Homo sapiens: one gene and its partners. Each later gene encodes a partner of the first gene's protein in a complex. Each region holds a gene or a part of one and is shown in the gene's direction. Other genes may lie near its edges.

Region 1 (8,345 bases):
TTATTTCAGTGTGCATTGGTATAAAAAAGTGTTGAGATATCTTACACTCTTTTTGTCAGGTGTCTCCAAAATCCAGTGTGTATGTTACACTTAGGCACACCCCTGTTCAGATTAGCCACCTTTCAGGCGCTCAGCAGCCCTGTGTGGCTGTGGCTACCGTATTGGGCAGTGCAGCTCTGGAACTGTGCCTGGCACGTGGCAAGTATATAAAACGTTTGCCATTGTTATCCTGGTCAAGGCTGGCCCCTTGTGGGCCTCCACTGCCCTACTTGGGAAGGTAGCACCCTAGGCCCTTTTGTCACCGAAGAGAAAGGCAGGGGTAGCAGGTCTCCAGGCCAGGGCTTACTGTGCAGTCTTGACCTCAGAGCCAGAAGGACCTGAATTCGAATCCCAGCTCTCCACCTAGGGCTCCTCGTGTATGAAATGAGCTAGTACTCTGAAATACCAAAAAAAGGAATAATTAAAAGGGTAGCTTTGACCGGGCATGGTGGCTCACGCCTGTAATCCCAGAACTTTGGGAGGCCGAGGTGGGCAGATCACTTGAGGTCAGGAGTTCAAGACCAGCCTGGCCAACATGGTGAAACCCCATCTCTACTAAAAATACAAAAATTAGCTGGGTGTGATGGCGCACACCTTTAATCCCACCTGAGGCAGGAGAATTGCTTCAACCTGGGAGGCGGAGGTTGCAGTGAGCCAAGATCACACCACTATACTCAGCCTGGGTGGCAAAGTGAGACTCTGTCTTAAAAAAAAAAAATAAGGGGTGGGGGGCAGGTACCTCCAGGGGCCAGTTAGCGTCAGTGGGATGCTTGTCAAAAACCCCGCTGCCTGGGAATTTGAGTTTTGTTAGCAACTGGCCTCTGATGACTCTGATACCTCACCAGGTGGCCCCGTGTCAGGAGCAGGTAGAACAGGATCCACCAGGCTCACCCCGCAGAGGAAGTCACGATTTCTTCTCCCTCCATCCTTAGGTCTCGAAGGCCACATTGCAGGAGATCCTGCCGGAGGTCCTCAAAGCCGACTTGAATATAATACTCAGCTCCCCTGAACAGCTAGAGCTCTTCCTCCTGGCCCAGCAGAAGGTGCCCTCCAAGCTCAAGAAGCTGGTGGGATCCGTGAACCTATTCTCAGATGAGAATGTCCCCAGGTGTGATGGAGGTGGGCGGATTTGCCCTCCCTGGGGCCAAGGGACTGCATCTGGCCAGGCCCAGATTTGTCGTTTGGCCTGGGGGTGTCCCGGCTGCTCTTGTCACCCTGGCCCTTGCCTGTGAGGCAAGTGTTCCCTGAGTCCCTTGCCCTCCGCAGGCTGGTGAATGTGCTGAAGATGGCCGCCTCCTCTGTGAAGAAGGACCGCAAGCTGCCCGCCATTGCTCTGGACCTGCTCCGCCTGGCACTCAAGGAAGACAAGTTCCCACGGTTCTGGAAGGAGGTGGTGGAACAAGGGCTGCTGAAGATGCAGTTCTGGCCAGCCAGGTGCGGGCGACGCGTGTCCTCTCTCGGCCCCCTTCCCTGTCCGTGAAGTGGGCTAGGCCACTAGTCCTGAGGTTCCCACCAGGGGCACCAAGGGCTCTGACCAGGCTCTGTCCTGCACCCCCTTTAGCTACCTGTGTTTCCGCCTGCTGGGCGCGGCCCTGCCCCTGCTGACCAAGGAGCAGCTGCACCTGGTGATGCAGGGAGACGTGATCCGCCATTACGGGGAGCACGTGTGCACTGCTAAGGTGGGTAATGCCCGTGCAGCTCGACACTGCCAGAAAGGCTAGACGTGGAGCTCTCCCTGCCAAAAAGGGGAGCAGGGCACCTCGGGGGCTTGGCTAGAGCTATGGGTGTCCCCTCCGTCTGGGTAGTGAGCTGCCTGAACCCCTTTCCCTCGGACAAATTTTTTTTTTTTGAGATGAAGTTTTGCTCTTGTCGCCCAGGCTGGAGCGCAGTGGTGAGATCTTGGCTCACTGCAACCTCCGCCTCCCAGGTTCAAGCGATTCTCCTGCCTCAGCCTCCTGAGTAGCTGGGATTACAGGCGCCCAATACCACGCCCAGCTAATTTTTGTATTTTTGGTAGAGACGGGATTTTGCCATGTTGGCCAGGCTGGTCTCGAACTCCTGACCTTAGGTGATCCACCCGCCTTGGCCTCCCAGAGTGCTGGGATTACAGACGTGAGCCACTGTACCTGGCTTCCCTCTGACAGTTTTGATAAAGTCAGGCCCTTCTGCCAGCAGGCCCCCTTGTGGGCATGGATAGCCAGCGGGCTGTTCAGACCTCTCTCCGCCCCCGCCCATGTGGCAGTGATGAGAACAGTCGTCATGACCATGTTTGGGCACCAGTGAGCCTGGTGCCCAGTAAGTGCTGCTGGGTTGACTGTTCTCACCAGCTCATTTTATCTTTGCAGTGAGTTTCAGAGAGCTGTCATTCTGGGTGAGGGGGAGACTTGAAGTATCAGGCAGTGGTTAAGAGCTTGGGTTGGATGGTGGTGCACACCTGTAGTCCCAGTTACTCGGGAGGCTGAGGTGGGAGGATCCCTTGAACCCAGAATTTTGAGGCTGCAGTGAGCCATGATCATGGCACTACATGCCAGGGGCACAAGTCTAAAAAATTGAAAGGAAAACAGCTTGGGCTGTGAAGCCGGACACTATCCCACTGGGAGCCTCTGACCCTGAGAAGTTACCTCTAGGTGTTTTTGTGTCTCACTGTACTCACCTGTGCAATGACAATATTGGCCAACCGCAAAGAGTTGCTAAAAATGCTAAGCTGCCGCCCAAAAAGGCGGAGCGCGGGTGCTGGCACTGAGTAAGCGCGTGAGAGGTGGTTGTTTTTGGTCCCGAAGATGACACGGCTAGGAATTGGCAGCGTGGGCTTTGAACCCAGGTCAGTCTCGCCTCCTAACTACCACTCTGCCCTGCGTTGAGCCAGGAAAACAGGCCATCCCCATCCAGCAAGGCGGAAAGAGGGGCCTTCTGGGGCCGGAGGTGCTGAAGCTGGGGCAGTCAGACCCACAGAGGCCTTGACGCCAGACAAAAGCACTGGGGTGACTGGACTGTTGCAAGTTCAGGCACAGCCTAGCTGTGTACAACAGGAGATTGCCGGGGCTCGATTTAACCTGTAGTGGGCACAAGCCTGGTGGGCTGTTGCCCGCCTGCCCCCGGGCTGTTGGGCTGTTGGGCTGTTGCCCGCCTGCCCCCTTGGCTGTTGGGTTGTTAACCGCCTGCCCCCCTGGGCTGGTGGGCTCAGCGCCATGCCTAACTCTTGCAGCTCCCAAAGCAGTTCAAGTTTGCCCCAGAGATGGACGATTACGTGGGCACCTTCCTAGAGGGGTGCCAGGATGACCCTGAGCGGCAGCTGGCCGTGCTAGTGGCCTTCTCATCTGTCACCAACCAAGGCCTCCCTGTCACGCCTACTTTCTGGCGGGTCGTGCGGTTCCTGAGCCCTCCGGCCCTGCAGGGCTATGTGGCCTGGCTGCGGGCCATGTTTCTCCAGCCAGACCTGGACTCCTTGGTTGACTTCAGCACCAACAACCAGAAGAAAGCCCAGGATTCATCGCTCCACATGTGAGTGGACCTTGGGGGAGGACACCTAATTTAGGAGTTAACTTCCTAGGCCTGCAGAGCCCCGCGACCCAAGCCCGCCCTCCACAGCGTCCTGGCTCTAAACCATGAGAGGAGCGAGGGGGAAGAGCCTTAGCTCTCATATGAGGCCTCAGTTTACTTGTGTGTCCCCACACTGGCGATCGGGATGGGGAGATCTTGGAGTGTTGTCTCTGAGATCAGGCAAAGGAATGTCCTGTTTTTGCTGGTTCTTTTTTTTTTTTTTTTTTTTTTTTGACAGAGTCTCACTCTCTGTGGCCTAAGCTGGAGTGCAGTGGCGTGTGATCTCAGCTCATTGCAACTTCTGCCTCCCGGGTTCAAGCAATCAAGTGATTCTCTGCCTCAGCCTCTCCAGTAGCTGGGACTACAGGCACCCGCCACCACACCCAGCTAATTTTTGTATTTTTAATGGAGATGGGGTTTCACCGTGTTGGTCAGGCTGGTCTCGAACTCCTGACCTCGAGTGATTGGCCAGCCTTGGCCTCCCAAAGTGCTGGGATTACAGGTGTGAGCCACTGGGCCCAGCCTGTTTCTGCCAGTTATAAGTGGCTCACATGACCTCGCCTCCTGCCCCGCTAGGCCTGAGCGAGCTGTGTTCCGGCTGAGGAAATGGATCATCTTTCGATTGGTGAGCATTGTGGACAGCCTGCACCTGGAGATGGAGGAGGCCTTGACTGAGCAGGTGGCCAGGTGCGAGCTGTGCTGGATTCCCAGCTTCCCATGGGCGTGTGGCCAAGGAATGGGGCCCCTTAACTCGTCCTAGTTTGCATCCCCTGGAGCCAGAAGCCTTTGGGTTGAGTCATCAGTGGGGGGCAGGCACAAGGGGACTTGGGAATTCCTCAGGAACCCGTGAAGGGAAGGGGCCCAGGAGGCACCCCAGCTGCAGGGGCCTAAAAGGTTCAGGTGTGCTCTGCGCGCCCTGCAGGCAGCTTTTGCACGTGGGAGGTGTCAGGGAAGCCTTCTGCCCCACACCTGCCTCGTCTGTGCCAGTGCAGAGCTGGGTGCTCACGTCACCCTCAACATGCACGGTTGCAAGAGGGGGCTGTCCCATGTTCGCAGGAGCAGTGACCTGACTTGGCCATGACCACACAGCCTCCCATCTGTTGGTTCCTTGAGAGGGGCACTGACTCTCTCTAGCTCGGGTTAACCCGCGTTCAGCTGGGGATCCAGAGCAGAGAAACGGCCCCTTCCCATCCTAGCCCAGCCCAGCCCCCTCCAGCCTTGCCCGTCAGGCCCCCGAGGACTGTACCCAGGGCAGAAGGGCGGCTCCTCCTCCTCCTGGCCTTGTACCCTCGGTGGTACCATCCAAGGAGGGGAGCCTGTAAAAACCAATGGCAGTGAATGGCTATGGCCACTCTCCCACCCTCCCCAGGTTTTGTTTGTTCCACTCGTTCTTTGTCACAAAGAAGCCCACATCCCAGATCCCTGAGACAAAGCACCCGTTCTCCTTCCCTTTGGAAAACCAGGCCCGAGAGGCTGTCAGCAGTGCCTTCTTCAGGTGAGTCTTGGGCAGCCCAGGAGAGGTCCGAAGGTGGGAAGGCCTTGAGGGCGCCTGCTCCCTCCAGGTCCCCTAAGCTGGGAACAACGGCAGAGGCCCCCGGAGTTCTAGTAGGTCCTGGAGAGGCGGGAGACCGAGCCCTGGGGAGGGCGGAGGGAGGCGGCTACATTGACTCATCTGGTCTGCTGACCCCAAGCCCCATCCCTTGCCCAGTCTGTTGCAGACCCTCAGCACGCAGTTCAAGCAGGCACCGGGCCAGACCCAGGGTGGGCAGCCCTGGACCTACCACCTGGTGCAGTTCGCAGACCTCCTGTTGAATCACAGCCACAACGTGACCACCGTGACACCCTTCACTGCGCAGCAGCGCCAGGCCTGGGACCGGTGAGCACGTGGGATTTCCAGGGGGTGGGCAGGACGCTGCAGTCTGACTGGTGCAGGGGCCTGGGAATCGCCTGTCTCCCCGCAGGATGCTGCAGACTCTGAAGGAGCTGGAGGCCCACTCCGCAGAGGCCAGGGCTGCTGCCTTCCAGCACCTTCTGCTCCTCGTGGGCATCCACCTCCTCAAGGTACTGGGGCCTGGGAGGGAGGGGCTGTGAGCCTGGGGTTCTATGGCACAATGGGCCCCCTACCGAGAGGCTTTTGAGGGCTGTGCGGGTTTCCAGGAAAGGTTCTGGGGGAGTTAAGTTGGGAGGTTTTTGAAGCCAACTTTGTCACAGGTGGAAACATCCCTCCGGCCACTTAGCGGCACCAGCTGGTGTCCTAGGCTTTCCATGCAGGATCTCGTAATCCCCACAGCTTTGAGGCAGACACCCCCTCTCCATGTTTGACATGGAGAAACTAAGACTCAGAGGCAAAGGAGCTTGCACTGTACCCCCTGCTGTGGGAACACCTTCTGGCAACGGGCTCTCCCGCTCGGTTCTTCCCATCAAGAAGCCCTGACCACATTCGAGGCTCAGTACCCTGATTTCTTTTGAGTTTTCTTCTCATGACATAAGCTGCTCTTATTGGGGCTGCTTTAGGTCTTCTGTAGCCTGAGTAGGTGGGTCTCTTGCTTGCTCCCGTCTGGCCACTTGACTGTGGTTGCCTTACTTGCCAGCTTTGGTTATTCTGAGCCCAGCATGTGGATGAGCTGTTTGGGGAAAGGTTGGCCACGATGCCCCTTCCAATTCTTGACGTCAGGCCTTTGATAGCAGCAGAGTCCTGGTGATTCCAGGACACATGTGGAGCCTGCCCCCAGCCTTGGGATCTCCGAACTTGACTTGGACAGAGGAGGCTGCAGTTTGCTGTGTCAGAGCCTTAGATAAAAGGTGCAGCCCTGGCCAGGCTCGGGGCTCGCACCTGTAATCCCAGTACTTCCGGAGACCAAGGCAGGTGATCACGAGGTCAGGAGTTCAAGACCAGCCTGGCCAACAGAGTGAAACCCCTTCTCTACTAAAATACAAAAATTAGCCAGGTGTGGTGGCAGGTGCCTGTAATCCCAGCTACTCAGGAGGGTGAAGCAGGAGAATTGCTTAAACCTGGGAGGCGGAGGTTGCAGTGAGTTGAGATGACACCACTGTACTCCAGCCTGGGCAACAGAACAAGATTCTGTCTTAGAAAAAAAAAAAAAAAGGTGCAGCCCAGAGGAGGACGGGGACCTGCTTGGGCACACAGCCTGGGAGCCGGAGAGCAATGACAAGGGCTTTGGGCTGCTTTGTCCCACCCTGGCCTAAACGTTCAAGCTGCCGACTGCATTATGAGGGGAAAGTCTGCTTTTTAGGTACCAAAGATCACACAGTTTTCAAGAGCTCCTGCACACGCACATGCGCACACCACGCCACCTCACTCGAGTCTGGGGTTATCCCCAGTCAGATGAGTTCAATGTAATTAAATTAGTTAAAACTAATGACTTTCAATTCTGTCTCTCATGCCAAGCCAAGCATGGAGGGAATAATCTAGAATTATGAATTGGGGGCTGGGGCTTGCTGGCTTCTCTGGGACCCTGACCATCCTTGTCAGGTTCTGCCTTTCTTGAGTGTCCAAGGGGGAGTTGGACTCCTTGTCCCCTTCAGGCTTTTGGATCCTGTAACTGCGTATTAGGTGTGAAAAAGCCGTCAGCTAGCTGGGCGCGGGGGCTCACACCTGCAATCCCAGCACTTTGGGAGGCCAAGGGGGGCAAGGGGGTGGATCACGAGGTCAGGAGTTCAAGACCAGCCTGGCCAACATGGTGAAACCCCGTCTCTACTCAAAATACAAAAATTAGCCGGGCATGGTGGTACACGCCTGCAATCCCAGCTACTTGGGAGGCTGAGGCAGGAGAATGGCTTGAACCTGGGAGGCAGAAGTTGTGGTGAGCCGAGATCAGACCACTGTACTCCAGCCTGGGCAATAGAGCGAGACTCCATCTCAAAAGCCCTCAGCTCTTGGGGTGTCCAGCTGGGGTCTTCTGTTCTGGATTGTGGGGGTGACTGGCCAGGGCGGGCCAGTGGCTGGGTGTTGGAGGCTTCTTGATGCCACTGCTGCCATTTGGCCAGCCCCTTGCCTGGTTTAGAAGGGCTGGGGACAGGGCCTGGCCCCAGTGTGTGTCCTACCCTGCCCGCAGTCCCCTGCAGAGAGCTGTGACCTGCTGGGTGACATCCAGACCTGCATCAGGAAAAGTCTGGGAGAGAAGCCCCGCCGGAGCCGCACCAAGACCATCGGTGGGTCCTTGGTCACGAGAGGGACTAGAGTGGTGGGGTGGGGCCAGCGGTCCCCTATCCGGGCTCAACCCCTCCCTCTTGCAGACCCCCAGGAACCCCCGTGGGTAGAGGTGCTGGTGGAGATCTTGCTGGCCCTGTTGGCCCAGCCCAGCCACCTCATGCGCCAGGTGGCCCGGAGCGTGTTTGGCCACATCTGCTCCCACCTGACCCCGCGTGCCCTGCAGCTAATTCTGGATGTGAGTTGGGACCTTTGGGAGTGGAATGTGGGCTGGGGCTCACTGAGCAGCGAGCTGCACCAGGGGTGCCGCTTCAGCCTCCAGCCTCCCTGCCGGGAGCCTGCGGCCGGTGGGAGGGGTCTCAACGAGGCCTTGGCCTGGCCTGGCCGCCTCTCCTAGGCTCCGTTTTCTTCTGGGAAATGGAGGTCTTTGGTCAAGGCTGAGTGGGGCCTGGAGAGGAGGGCGGGGGCTGCAAATGGGTCAGTGGCTGGCACCCCTCCCCAGGTGCTGAACCCCGAGACCAGTGAGGATGAGAATGACCGTGTGGTGGTGACGGACGATTCTGATGAGCGGCGGCTGAAGGGTGCAGAGGTGTTG
Region 2 (7,672 bases), on another chromosome or scaffold:
GGCCTGACCTCGGCTAACCGCAACCTCTGCCTCCTGGTTCAAGGGATTCTACTGCCTCAGCCTCTCGAGTAGCTGGGATTACAGGCATATGCCACCACAGCTGGCTGATTTTGTATTTTTAATAGAGACAAGGTTTCTCCATGTTGGTCAGGCTGGTCTCAAACTCCCGACCTCAGGTGATCCGCCCGTCTCAGCCTCCCAGAGTTTTAGGATTACAGACGTAAGCCACTGCGCCCGGCCTACAAGTCTGAATCCTAGCAGGGCAGTCTTTAAATCTTAAAGCTCCAAAATTATCTCCTTTTACTGCATGTCTGGCATCCAGAGCACGCTGGTGCAAGGGGTGAGGGGTCCCAAGGCTTTGGGCAGCTCAGGATGCAAGCTGCTTGTGGCTCTACCATGCTGGAGTTTGGAGGTGGCAGCCCCCTTCCCACAGCTCCACTAGCCAATAGAGCCTTGGTGGTGAATCTAGGGGTCCACCCCCCATTTCCCCTTTCCACTCCACACTGCCCTAGTAGAGGTTTTCTTTCTTTTTTTTTTTTTTTTTTGGAGACAAGGTCTCACTTGTCACCCAGGCTGGAGTGCAGTAACATGATCTCAGCTCACTGCAAACTCTGCCTCCCAGGCTCAAGCAATCCTCTCACCTCAGGAACCACAGGCATGCGCCACCATGCCCGGGTACTTTCTGTATTTTTTGTAGAGGCAGGGTTTTACCATGTTGCCCAGGCTGGTCTCAGACTCCTTAGCTCAAGTGACCTGCCCGTCTCTGCCTCCCAAAGGGCCTGGATTACAGGAATGAGCCACCACGCCTGGCCCTGAGTAGCAGTTTTCTGTGAGAGTTCCACCCCTGCAGGAGGCTTCTGCCCAGGCACCCAGGCTTTCTCATATATCCTCTGAAGTCTGTCCTAAGAAAGGGGTCAGATTAGCCAAAATTGGCAGTGATTTTGGGGAAAAGGGAAGTGAGAGAAATGACTAGTAAAAGATGACTCTTAGGTTTCTGTCTTTGGCAGGTGGGTGGATGGTATTAATGTTTTTTGAAAAAAATTCACAAAGTGAGCAAGTTTGGAGATGATTATGATTTTTCTTTTGAATATTTTGAGTTTAGGTGCCTGTAGGACATGAATTGTAGCTGTCCAGATGACAGACAGGCATATACTGTTGGCTCTCCATATCTGTGGGTTCCTCATCTGTGGATTCAATCAACCACAAATTGGTAAAAATGGATGGTTGCATCTGTACTGAACATGTACAGATTTTTTTATTATTCCTAAACAATACAGTATAACAACTATTTACATATCAGTTAAGTTGTATTAGTCATTATGAGTAATCTACAGATGATATAAAGTATATGGGAAGATGGTCATAGGTTACATGTAACTACTACACCATTTTTTTAAAAAATAAGGGACTTGAGCATCCATGGATTTTGGCATCTGAGGGGCGTCCTGGAACCAATCCCTCACAGATACTGAGGCAATATTAGTTAATATGAATCTCAGATGAAAGTTGTGGCTTGGAGATTGACTGGGAAGTCATTAGCTTGTAGTTAGTAATCAGAGACAAGCAAATAGTTTAAATCACTAAGTTGATGAAGTTGAGTGATAGTAGGGGTTGTTTTAGTGTGTTTGGTCTTCATTCTGTACAACATGGCCAGAATATACCTGTTGATAGCCCTTTCTCCTGAAGTATTCTTTCTGTGCGAATCCTTACATTACTAAATCTAAGCTGTCTTTAAAAGCCAGCACACGTGCTTTGTTCCTTTTTCTCTAGTCCCAAAATAATCAATTCCTCCTCAGTGCACAGCAATTTATTTGTGTATCTTTCTTAAGATGTTTTGTTATCTTTTATATTGGCGTATATTTATGTCTCATTTCTTTAGTAGCATCTTTTTCAAAAGATACGCAGTTTTTATCATCCATTTATCCCCTCTTAGTATTGAGTGCAGCTGCACAACACAGGCATTAAATAAATGGCAGAACCTCGAGCAGTATATAGTATTCTTTTATCTGACTTTATTTCATTCAAAAAATGATTTTATTTTAGATAAATGGAGCTTAATGTTTTGAATTTTGAAGTATATGCTACCTGTTTTCTAGATTTTTTTTTTTTTTTTTTTTTTTTTTTTTTTTTTTTTTTGAGACGGAGTCTTGCTGTGTCGCCCAGGCTGAGGTGCAGTGGTGCGATCTCGGCTCACTGCAAGCTCCGCCTCCTGGGTTCATGCCTTTCTCCTGCCTCAGCCTCCCAAGTAGCTGGGACTACAGGCACCAGCCACCACACCTGGCTAATTTTTTGTATTTTTTAGTAGAGATGGGGTTTCACCACGTTAGCCAGGATGGTCTTGATCTCCTGACTGAGTTAGCCAGGATGGTCTCGATCTCCTGACCGAGTTAGCCGGGATGGTCTTGATCTCCTGACCTCGTTATCCGCCCGCCTCAGCCTCCCAAAGTGCTGGGATTACAGGCATGAGCCACCGCGCCTCACCGTAGATTTTTGTGACTAAACAATTTAACTTTGAGTGACTTATGGTCATCATTAGGAATGTTATTCATAAACTACAAAGTAATGCTCTCCCAGTTGATTGCATTAAATGTAAACTTGGAGAGTTTTATCCTATCCACGTACTTCAGGCTGTTCTGCCTGGAAGTCTTTATTTGTGTTTCTTTTGTCAGTTTACTAAATTGTTATTGTTCTCTATATATCTTTTGAAGTTCTTAATCTCCCAGTCTAAATTTGATTATTCCTGAAGTACAGCAAACTGAATCTCAATTATTAAATAGAATTATGTCCAAAGATTAAACAGAGCTAGATTTTTTTCACAAACGAAGTGACTGGACTGTAATGGCAATAATTTTAGTTGGATAAAAATTAGTTTGCTTTCTAATTTTTTTTTTTAACTGAGTCCCTGTGAGTGCCAGGTGAGTAAAATGTTACTCTGAAAAAATTTTCATGGTGCTCTATTAATTAATCAAGTGTTTTCCTCTTTTATGTCATTTGCTTTCCAAAACCATGCTCAGAAGAAGAATAAAGTATTAGGTTTTGGGGACTTTGTTCTACATGTGTATCTAATAAAGTTAATACAATGTTTAAGCTTTTTGTTAATTAAGAAATACTAAATTAATTTCTAGAAAAGAGTCTCATCGTGGAAGGCAAGAGGGAAAAGAAAAAAGTAGAGAGGTTGACAATGCAAGTCTCTTCCTTACAGAGAGAGCCATTTACAATTGCACAAGGTAAGTTTATTCTAGCTTCCTTTCATTTTGTGGTGAAAGTGCCTAAATTTGTGAAAATGATGGTTTGTAGCTTAGTATCAGCAAGGTAGTGTTTTATACTTTTGGTATAATTTTATTTAATTTGCTCTGTAAGAGCAGAGTTACATGTAAATTATGCTGTGAAAATAATTCTCATTAAATTAACTTTGTAAATGTATTAGTAAGCCATAGGTATTTAATTGTGATTTTTTTTTTTCCCCAGGAAAGGGGCAGAAACTTTGTGAAATTGAGAGGATACATTTTTTTCTAAGTAAGAAGAAAACCGATGAACTTAGAAATCTACACAAACTGCTTTACAACAGGCCAGGCACTGTAAGACCTTTTTACACTTTAAACCTACTTGTATATTACTTCACAATGGAATCAATTTCTGTAAATGTTAGTGATCCACTAGTTCAATTTCCACACTTTATGACTGAGCAGACTGAGGTATATACTTATTAAATGATTTATCACAGGAAACACAGCTGGATATTAGCACTTGGATTATAATATCCAGGGCTCTGTCTTCTTTTTTCTTTTTCTTTTTCTTTTTTTTTTCTTTCTTTTAAGACACGGTCTCACTTTGTCACCCAGGCTGGAGTACAGTGTGCAATACATGGCTCACTGCAGCCTCAACCTCCTGGGCTCAAGTGTTCCTCCCGCTTAAGCCTCCCAAGTAGCTGGGACCACAGGTGCATGCCACCATACTGTGTCTGGCTAATTGTTTTACTTTTTGTAGAGGCAGGGTTTTGCCATGTGCCCAGGCTGGTCTTGAACTCCTGAGCTCAAGTGGTCCTCCCACCTTGGCCTCCCAAAGTGTTGGGATTACAGGTGTGAGCCAGTATGCCCAGCTCTAGGGCTCTTTCTCCTGTAGTAGTTTTTATTCCAAACTGAAATTTCAAATTACGAAATCCAAATTGTGATGAAAGGTTTTAGTGACCTTTAAATGTATTGAAAGAAATTCATGTTTTTGGATTTTCTCGACATTCAGAATAAGTGAATGTCGGTATGATTTGTATGAGATCATACATATGATCTCATTTGTATCTCATACAAATAAGAGGCAAAATCATTTGTATCTCATACAAATCTCATACAAAGTGAATTTGGTGTAATTGTATCTCATTTTTAGCAAATACCTGATAAATTGGATGATAGTTCTTTGCTAAAGGATTGTTATTATACTGTACATATGACTTAGTATATTATATAATCGAGGGAACTGCTTTAGGTTGTACGTGGGCAAAGTAAAGTTGGGTGTTAGAATGTCTGAAGTAGAATAGAATGTCTGGTGCATGACATAATTTATTTTCAGTGAGTCTGTTAATCTCATTTAATCCTTAAACCAATTTAATTTACACAAGTCCCATAACTAGTGAACGGTATTAGCTTTTTGTGGTACTCGCTATTCTTTACTTTGAAAGAATAAAGTCCTTCTTGATTTGGAAAAGAAGAATTACTAGTAACTTTATTACTTATGAAAAGGATATATTTTTAAATAGTAACTTTCCACATCCCCTGGTACTGTCAGGTAACTTTTGGTTGTGGTAAAAACTCCCCAGTGAAAATTTGTTCAAATTGTTCTTTTCAGAGACTTAAGTTTGTAGGATTTTTATAATGTTAATATGTTAATGACAAATACATTTTTCAGTTTTGAATAAGAAATGTTGAATATTGAACCCATATTGAATTGGTTGACTGTTCAGCCAGTATTGTAACTTACAGACAGGTATGAAAATAAAGATGTTGACTTTGAATTGGCTTTGAATTTATTCTTGTGTACATTACTGGGTAATAAATACCATTAATAATAAGGAACATTTTCAGGTGTCCTCATTAAAGAAGAATGTGGGTCAGTTCAGTGGCTTTCCATTTGAAAAAGGAAGTGTCCAATATAAAAAGAAGGAAGAAATGTTGAAAAAGTAAGTTATTTTTATAAATACTGTATTTTGATCAATATGCTTTAAGTTTATTTTTTAATGTTAAATCACATTCGGGCCAGGCACAGTGGCTCACACCTGTAATCCCAGCACTTTGGGAGGCTGAGGCGGGCGTATCACCTGAGGTCAGGAGTTTGAGACCAGCCTGACCAACATGGAGAAACCCCGTCTCCACTAAAGATACAAAATTAGCCGGCTGTGGTGGCGCATGCCTGTAATCCCAGCTACTTGGGAGGCTGAGGCAGGAGAATCGCTTGAACCTGGGAGGTGGAGGTTGCGGTGAGCCAAGATTGGGCCATTGCACTCCAGCCTGGGCAACAAGAGCGAAACTGTCTCAAAAAAAAAAAAAGAAAAAAGATTCATAGAAGCATTGGCCACTTTTTTAAATGTATGTAACTGAGCCAATTTGGTTGGCTTTCCCTTTATATTGTGGAGAACATATGTAAGCTTTCCTATATTAACACCTTGGTTTCTTCCATTTTCTGTTTCAGATTTAGAAATGCCATGTTAAAGAGCATCTGTGAGGTTCTTGATTTGGAGAGATCAGGTGTAAATAGTGAACTAGTGAAGAGGATCTTGAATTTCTTAATGCATCCAAAGCCTTCTGGCAAAGTGAGGATCAATTTTTATTTTTTTCATAAATCAGTTATTCATAGCCTCTTTATATGAAACAAAAATTGATTAATAACAGCATTGCTGTCAGTATTCGTTCATATCTACATTCAAAGACTATACCTTCTGTTGACGTATCTGCAGTAATTTCCTGATAGAAATAATATAGATGCCATAGGGGTATGTTGCTTCGGAAAATCAGATACAAGGGATATAAGGTTAAGAATAGTGAATTAATGTCAGAAGGGACAGAAAGTACTAGTAGTCAGGGTTAGGTATCTAGAAGACACTGGAAGAATAGGAAGAGGTTGGGCTGAGGATGAGGTGCAAGGCTGGAGGGAAGGGGTGCAACCTGTAATCAAGTGAAGACAAAATAGGGAGTATATTAGAACTGGATGTTTTCCTAGATCCTGGAATAAAGTATTAAAAAGTGACATTTAAAAGCTAACTCTTACAAGTTTCCTATATTGGGTTTCCAGAATCTGCAGCAGAGCCCAGGAGCCAGACAGGGAAGTAAAATGGCCTTACAGTTTTCTCACTCTTCCTAAAAGCTAGTAGGTTTGCCCTAATTATTTAATGGTAACGAATGACATAGGTGACTTAAAATGTCTGTTGAAGTGTTACATGACCTTGCCTTTTTAGTGTGATTTAGGTCTGTCAGCAAATGTTTTTATATTCTTCCCCATCTTGACAGGAAAGGAAGTGTGAGAGATCTAGCAGGCCTAGGAGTTCAGGGGAATGCCATCTCTGATGGGAGATGGCATTAATCAAAACCAGAAAATAGCTCTAGGACTTCGTTTTCGTCCGCCCTTGGTCCTTATTACCATTAGCTGCACGAGGACAGATAAACAGCAGTTAAAGTGTAAACTTTTGTTATACAACTACAAACGCAAGGGGTATGATGATTTTTGGTGTTTTAAATTGGCTTGTTTAAAGACAAAATACTTCTTATTTTCTAACTTTTACTATAGCTATACTTGTACTTTTTAAGGATTTAGTGTGAGGCAAGGTGATCACTATTTCCTCAGAAGCAATTTACTAGGTTGTTATGACAGATATTTTTATATTTATCTTTTTCTCAGTGGTTTTCCAATTTATTGGTTTCAGGATACTGTTGCCCTCTTAAAAAATTAGTGAGGACCCCAAGAGCTTTTTTTAATATGAGTTATTTTGATCTTCACTGTATTTGACATTAGAACTGAAAAATTTTTATTTTAAAATGTTAAAAATAATATTTTCTAGGAAAAATAACTTTTCAAAAGAATGAAAGAGTGGCATTTTATGTTTTTGTACATCTGTTTAATGTCTGGCTTAAGAGAAAACAGCTTGATTACCATTTGCTTCTGCATTCAGTCTTTTTGTGTTGTTGTTGTTGTTACTGTTGTTGTTACTGTTGTTTTGAGACAGATTCTCACTCTGTTGCCCAGGCTAGAGTGCAGTGGCACAATCTCTGCTCACTGCAACCACTGTCTCCCAGGTTCAAGCAATTCTTCTGCCTCAGTCTCTACAGTAGCTGGGATTATAGGCGTGTGCCACCATACCTGGCTAATTTTTGTCTTTTTAATAGAGACGGGGTTTTGCCATGTTGGCCAGGCTGGTCTCGAACTCCTGACCTCAGGTGATCTGACCGCCTCGGCCTCCCAGAGTGCTGGGATTACAGGCGTGAGCTACCGTGCCTGGCCGCATTCAGTCTTTTGCAATGTATTGTTTTGTTTAAAATCTATGAAGGGCCTGATGCAGTAGCTTATGCCTGTAATCCCTGCCCTTTGGGAGGCCGAGGCAGGTGGATCACTTGAGCTCAGGAGTTCAAGACCAGCCTGGGTGACAGAGTGAGACTGTCTCAAGAAGAAATTAGCCAGGCGCTGAGGCACG
Region 3 (6,957 bases), on another chromosome or scaffold:
ATGTAGATGTATGGACTTTACGGACTTATCTCTGGGTTCTCTGTTCTTTTCCACTGTTGCACTGATCTATGTATCTGTTTCTATACCAGCACCATGCTGTTTTGGTTACTATAGCTCGGTACTATAAGTTAAGTCAGGTAATGTGATTCTTCCAGTTTTATTCTTTTTGCTTAGGGTGGCTTTGGCTATTTCTGGGTGTTCTGTGGGTCCATATAAATTTTAGTATTTTTTTTTCTATTTCAGTGAAGAATGTCATGGGTATTTTGATAAGGATTGCATTGAATCTGTGGATTGCTTTGGGTAGTATGGACATTTTAACAATATTGAATTTGCTAATCCATGAACATGGAATATCTATTTTTTTGTGTCTTCAGTTTCTTACATCAGTGTTTTATAGTTTATCTTAGAGATCTTTCGCTTCTTTGATTAATTCCTGGGTATTTTATTTCACGTGTAATTACTGTAAATGGGATTACTTTTTATTTTTCACATTCTTCACTGTTGGCATAGAAATGCTACTGTTTGTTGTATGTTGATTTTGTATCCTGCAGTGTCACTGAATTTGTTTATGAGTTCTAATAGTTTTTTGATGGAGTCTTTAGGTTTTTCCAAATGTAAGATTATGTCATTTACAAATAGGGCAATTTGACTTCTTTGTTTCCGATTTAGATGTCCTTTCTTTCTTTCTCTCGTCTGATTGCTGTAGCTAGGACTTCCTTGAAATACTTAAAAAGTACAAATTTAGCTTGACTGGGTTGTGTGGGAAAAATCACTTCTTGATGATATGGTAGTCCTTAATATGGGGCTTCGTGAAAATCAGGAAAGTATGTCTCGTAAATGTCAAGTGTGTACACATCTCATTGAGAATACAAGTTATAATTTTAGAATAATTTAAGAAACATTGGAAAAGCAGTGGTATTATGACTTTTACTGTTAGTCTCTAAGCTTTGATTATTTCAGTGATGTTTTAGCAATGTGAAGGCAAACACTTAAAGGGAAAAAATGTTATTTAATAATAGTTAATTTAATAAAAAATGGTTAATTTATAAAGTCATGAATAAATGAGTATCTCTGGATAATATTTGGTACTTATGTAACTGCCTTTTAAAAACTCAAGTGTTTCTTACTATTTTGGGAAGCTTGCATTTATTTGATATTGATCTACTACTGTTAATTGTGCATTAGTTTTATAACGTCATTATTAACATTAACATTTTTTATTCTGTAAGTAAAATAAGTAGGTAAGATTATTTGGAGGCTTTATAGTTTGCTTTGAAAGATTTATATAGCCTGGGGGAAAAGTCTCATACCTATTACTTTGTAGTAGTTGTTATTACTAAAGTGTTATAATGTGTCTGCAACTATATTTCATGTTTATATTAGTCTTGTGAAAAGTAATCCTTCTGTCTGTTTGTAGACACAGAAACGTAAAATGGATGGCGCACCTGATGGTCGAGGAAGAAAAAAGAAGCTGAAACTATGAATATGTTTTTGTTTCATAATCACTAACTTTAAACCAGTAGTTCTTTAATTTACGGGTCTTCATAAGATGTACTGTACAATGCTCAATTGTTATGTCATTTAAAGACATCAGGTTCATCTGTTTACTGAGCTAGAAACATAGTATGTAGTTTCACTTTTTTAAATGCAACAGCTGTGCTGAAATTTTTTTATCATTAACACTTGAAGTAATAAAATAGGCTTCATTTATTACTAAGTGTTTCATTTGATTTATTTTTCTATTGTAGTTCCATTTGTGAAGATTGTGACTTTTTGTTTATTAGCTATAATTTCTACACTTGTAAGGCTTAAAAACAAGTTAAAAAGAAAATTGCAAATAACATTTGTCCCTTTCAGTCTTCACCTAGTTGTGTAATTATTTTAATTCACTTTGCCTTTGCAGAAATTTGGGTATTTTCTTTGTAGTGCTATTGAGTCTCATCTGGAAAGATTATATAAATTGCATTCTCCTTGCTTATGTGGGTAGAATGGGAAAAGAAGGCAAGACAAAGTATACTTAAATTCTATGCATATTTCTGTTATGCTTTCTGTTTTTTTTAGTTGATTCTGAAATGAATATGCCCTATTCTTTTGAAAGAATGGCCTTTTAGTTGTATAGCCAAAGACATTTAGTATTTTCCGGTTCCTTAAGGTATTACTGTACCATTTTGTAAAAGGAATATTATTATTATTATTTTTAATTATTTGGTAAATATTTTGTCATATGACCTTCTGAAGCAGCCACAACTTAGATAATGTCAGAACTAAGGTGATTTTTTTTTTTTAATTTTGAAAGCCCAGCCAAAATGAGGTGTGAATTTGTCATACTGTTACATTGAAATTGGTAACAAAATATATCCCCTCCCATTTGGACTTTTAGGGTAAATGAAAATTTTATTGTATTTTAAAGTAGTTTCTAAGTGTTAGCAAGACTGACTATAATTCCAGTTTCTGTTTTCTATGGACAGACCTGATAAACTGGAGACCCTAAAGCAGGAATACCCAAATTATAGTGTCAGGATTTTAGCTGTACCAGAGGCCTTTATGTGCTACACATAATTTGTATAAAATTTTATATGTGCAGATTGGGTACATAAACAGTTCTCCATTTTTCTAAGGGAATGCAATAAATGTAGCATCGTGAATAAATATAACTTTTATAATCCGTAAAGTGGTCTTTTCTTTCCATTTCTTTAATTGTTTTCTCAATTTTTATTCACTTTTTCCTTTAGGACACATTTCCCTTAATTGGATATCTTTCCCTTAAATTTCTATTAGTAGTTGTTTTCATCTGCCCACATGTAATTGAAGATTTAAAAAAAAAATTTTGATACCTGCAGTATTACTAATACTGCTTAATTTCTTGAAATGTGGAATTGCTGCTGTTAATGTCAAGCAAAACGCAGTATTTATGGCAAATTGTAAAGTAATTTGAATTTAGTGCTACCTCAAAATTAACTTTTTAAATACTATGTTAGATTCTTAACAGTTAAAGGTCTAATACATGCATGAGGAATGGTTACTTATGAAAGGAAAAAGAATTTGTAAGAGTTATCACCTCAGTTTGGAAGAAATTGAAAAAATGTAAGGCTGAAGAAAACTTACGGAGGTCACAAAAGTGATGTTTTCAAGAGGAGGAGAAACTGGGAGGGAGATACACAGTGGAAATGCAAAATGAATCAAGTATAGTGGTAGCCCTGAGAGCTTAGGGACTCAAATGGAAACTGTGTGAAGGGAAACTCACTTGAAAAAAAAGCATGAACCAGCTAGGCCCTGCCACCACTGTGTTTGGCCAAGTTCACAAATCTGTTTTAACCTGTCACTTCCCTGTCACTTCTCTGGCTTTCCTCTCCCGCTAAGCTTTTGTTTCCTGGCAGTAATTAAAATCTTCTGTCAGTGCCACAGCTACTACTGCTACTGGAACTGCCTTAACCACTACTGCTACTGGAACTGCCTTAGCCACCTTGGTATCGTGGTTTGGCAAAGTATTGGCCTCTACCACCATAGGGCCCAGAGCTTCTGCCTCCAAAGTTTCCTCCCTTCATGGGTCCAAAATTTGAAGACTGATTGTTGTCATTGCCAAAATCATTGTAGCTTTTACCACCTCCAAAATTGCTTCAATCATTACCAAATCTATTATAGCAATCCCCACTGCCACCATATCCATCACCACCACCATGGCTGCCACCAAAGCCACCACGATCACAGAACTTGATGACTGTATTTGTGACTAATTGTATAATAGTTTCTGTTCTGTGGAAAGTAAAGCATTCCAACACAGGGTTTCAGTGTAGATTGTTTTGTTTTGTACCCATGCTGTTGATTGCTAAATGTTTTAATAATCTGATCATGATACTGAATAAATGTCTTTTTTTTTTTTTAACAACAAAGCATGAAAGATTGCTTAATTGTACATCTGACAAAGTGCTGGAGGCTATTATAAAGTGTAATTATTACTACTTTTAAGAGACAGGGTCTTGCTCTGTCACCCAGGCTGGAGTGCAGTGGTGCAATCACAGCTCACTGCAACCTCAAACTTCAGGGCTCAAGTGATCCTCCCACCTCAGCTTCCCAAGTAGCTAGGACTACAGATACCACGCCCAGCTAAGTTTTTTTAGTTTTTGTAGAGATAGGGCCTTGCTATGTTGCCCAGTCCGGTCTCAAACGCCGACTTCAGGCAATCCTCTTGCGTCAACCTCTCAAAGTGCTGGGATTACATGTGTAAGCCTACATTCCAAAGTGCTGGGATCATAGTTGTGAGCCTACACCACACCTGGCCTACATTTTGTTTTTCATAAAGTTGAGAGAAGCAAATCCTAAGCATAGAGTACAAGTTGAGCATCCCTAATCAAAAAATCTAAAATCAGAAATGCTCCATAATTTGAATGCTCATTAGGGCATTTCTGATTTTTGGATTAGGGATGCTGAACTGATAAGTATAATGCAAGTATTCTAAAGTCTGGAAAATGCTAAAAACACTTCTGGTTCCAGGCATTTCAGATAAGGATTGCTCCATCTGCCCTTTGAGTATTTAATATATGCCGATTGTTTGAACTAATCTGGATTTAATTATATAAATGATTATATAAATGATCTTTGGCTTAGTACCTTTCTTAATCTCGATCTTAAAAAGCATTGTAAAACACCCCTGTGGTTTTTCAGAAAAATTCTGAGTAAAAAATAAATTTCATCTTGTTCTATCCCTTTGAATCTAAAAAACAAATCTTTTTGAAAGGATGTGCTACTATATTTCAAACCAGTAGTTTTGGAGTAGAACATTGCTAAAAAAATGGGTACTAAGGAGGGTAATTTAAACAAAGTAGATTAATGACACAAGGTGGATTGATGAACTCATAAATCCAAATGAATGGAATGCTAGAAGACATGTATTAACGGAGTAGCTGTTACCAAAATATATACATATTTTGTATATGTACATAGCTGTTACCAAAATGTATCTTTGCCTGTTGGAATCTGATGTCAAGATCAAAGGTGAGGGCATCCCTCAGATGACAGATAATGGGCAAAATACATTCTTGGTGTGGAGCAGTGCTGCAGAATTAACTTCGCTGTGTACATCCCAGAATCGTTTTGGATCTGTTAAGGTTTTTATTAGAATGATTAAATAGGCTTTTGCAGCATTAACTTTACAGTAGTTACCAGAAAAGACTATGCTACAAGAACCAAAATTGAAGTAAGAAGAAAAAGACTGAAATGATATGATTCTAAATGAAAAAAATGAAGAAGTGGAATAGTTTCTCCACAGGCATAAGAGGCAAAGCATTGTTTCAGAAGTGGACTGGCACCTCACCTGAGATACTCAAGACTGGCAACATGGGTCTACATTCTTTGTTACCACAGATTCCCTTGTGTCCGGAGAGATTCCCTAGCTCTAATGACAGCTTTTTTGGGGGGTAATGAGGCTATGAGAAGATTGAGGATCTAGGTACTTGCCTTTAACTCTACAGCATACAAGGTGTGTGGCTCTTATCTCTAGGACACCAATATTTAATGTTGCATATCATGTATCTCCAGTACAAGAAGAAAGTTTATCAGAATTTAGTTAATGTTGGAAACTTTGTAATATAAACAATGTAAACACTACATTGACAAAAATATTTTATTAATACAAAGAATATGCATATAGTTTGCTTACTACAGAAATTCTTGTTTTTGATGTAGACAACCCAAAGGAGTTTTTATGTATATAGATTGTGAATAAATTGGGAAAAGAAATAGAGATAAGTAGAGATTATTTCACTTCATTAAACTTTTGAAGTCCTAATTTAGTTCATGTGATTATTTGTAAACTTTTCTTTATTAGTCTTCCTCAATCATTGAAGAACCCAGGATTCAAATACAATACTTAATGGAAACACTTTTTCATCCCAAACTAAATCCTGCCCTGAAAGCCGAATTCACTATGAAATCTGAGATGAAACTCCAAGGCTATTATGCTGGCCAGTGGAAGGTTGGTTCACCCCTCTTGAGGTGACATTAGGGTGGTCTGCAGACATCACTGGAGTGGACAAAGAGATGCCTGGGTGGTTGGGGAAAGGACAGATCATAGACAACAGTAGCCTCTTTCTAGAGCTCAGTTGCAATAAATACCACAGTTACTCATCAGACACATTGGCAGTTCTACTTATTCCCATGTTTCAAAACTAGAGAATTCTAGCAAGGACTAAGCACTGCTTCTGTAGACCATCGGTATTTCTCCATGGCTGTTTGAATTTTTGTCAAAGCTTCTGTGTCTCATGCACACTAGTGACTTTTGAGACAGAGTCTTGCTCTGTCACCCAGGTTGGAGTGCAGTGGTGCGATCTAGGCTCACTGCAACCTCTGCCACCCAGGTTCAAGCAATTCTCCTGGCTCAGCCTTCCGGATAGCTGGGACTACAGGCATGCACCACACCTGGCTAATTACTGTATTTTTAGTAGAGACAGGGTTTCACCATATTGGCCAGGCTGGTCTCGAACTCCTGGCCTCAAATGATCTGCCTGCCTCCGCCTCCCAAATGTTGAGATTACAGGTGTGAGCCACTGCATCTGGCCTGATGCAGATTGATAATTTCTTGAGTGAGGCAGTGCTGTTGCCTAGTAGCAAGGCTTAGCTGGGTGAGACATTACTAGCTGCCTTCAGAAGCGGATCTCTGCCCTGAAGTTTACCAGCCTGCTTTCCTTGATGCCCATGCTGGCTGGGTGTAGGGATCCTGAGTGGAGGGAAAAAGAAGAATAGATGATACAGATTTGCTGTGCAAAGGCGGAGTTCTTACTGGCTCTTCCTCACAAACAGGCTGGTGATTAGCTGACTTTCAGATTCCCTTCTGGGAGGTGGCAAGGGGCCATCTGGTCATCCTAGCTTTGCAAGGAGTAACTTTTTTTTTTTTCATTTTATATGCCCTTTAATCCCAGTAGATGGATAGGTTTGCTTTCTTAGTATGCTTTCCAGTTGTAG

Evidence for each region. The genes of interacting proteins can lie anywhere in the genome.
Region 2: MYBBP1A (region 1) and DEK share a complex: the UniProt entries of both Homo sapiens proteins name them as parts of the B-WICH complex.
Region 3: MYBBP1A (region 1) and SMARCA5 share a complex: the UniProt entries of both Homo sapiens proteins name them as parts of the B-WICH complex.

What each region holds. Positions count from the first base shown.
Region 1 is NC_000017.11:4,545,253-4,553,597, reverse strand, and holds part of MYBBP1A (myb-binding protein 1A), read left to right. Parts: intron 1-971; coding exon 972-1,147; exon of another isoform or gene 1,148-1,158; intron 1,159-1,305; coding exon 1,306-1,473; intron 1,474-1,600; coding exon 1,601-1,718; intron 1,719-3,244; coding exon 3,245-3,540; intron 3,541-4,155; coding exon 4,156-4,266; intron 4,267-4,948; coding exon 4,949-5,074; intron 5,075-5,287; coding exon 5,288-5,455; intron 5,456-5,540; coding exon 5,541-5,640; intron 5,641-7,655; coding exon 7,656-7,752; intron 7,753-7,836; coding exon 7,837-7,988; intron 7,989-8,252; coding exon 8,253-8,339; intron 8,340-8,345. UniProt on the Homo sapiens protein: May activate or repress transcription via interactions with sequence specific DNA-binding proteins. Repression may be mediated at least in part by histone deacetylase activity (HDAC activity).
Region 2 is NC_000006.12:18,253,859-18,261,530, reverse strand, and holds part of DEK (protein DEK), read left to right. Parts: intron 1-3,125; coding exon 3,126-3,227; intron 3,228-3,468; coding exon 3,469-3,578; intron 3,579-5,075; coding exon 5,076-5,170; intron 5,171-5,679; coding exon 5,680-5,800; intron 5,801-7,672. UniProt on the Homo sapiens protein: Involved in chromatin organization.
Region 3 is NC_000004.12:143,551,702-143,558,658, forward strand, and holds the end of SMARCA5 (SWI/SNF-related matrix-associated actin-dependent regulator of chromatin subfamily A member 5), read left to right. Parts: intron 1-1,417; coding exon 1,418-1,483; 3' UTR 1,484-5,785; downstream 5,786-6,957. UniProt on the Homo sapiens protein: ATPase that possesses intrinsic ATP-dependent nucleosome-remodeling activity.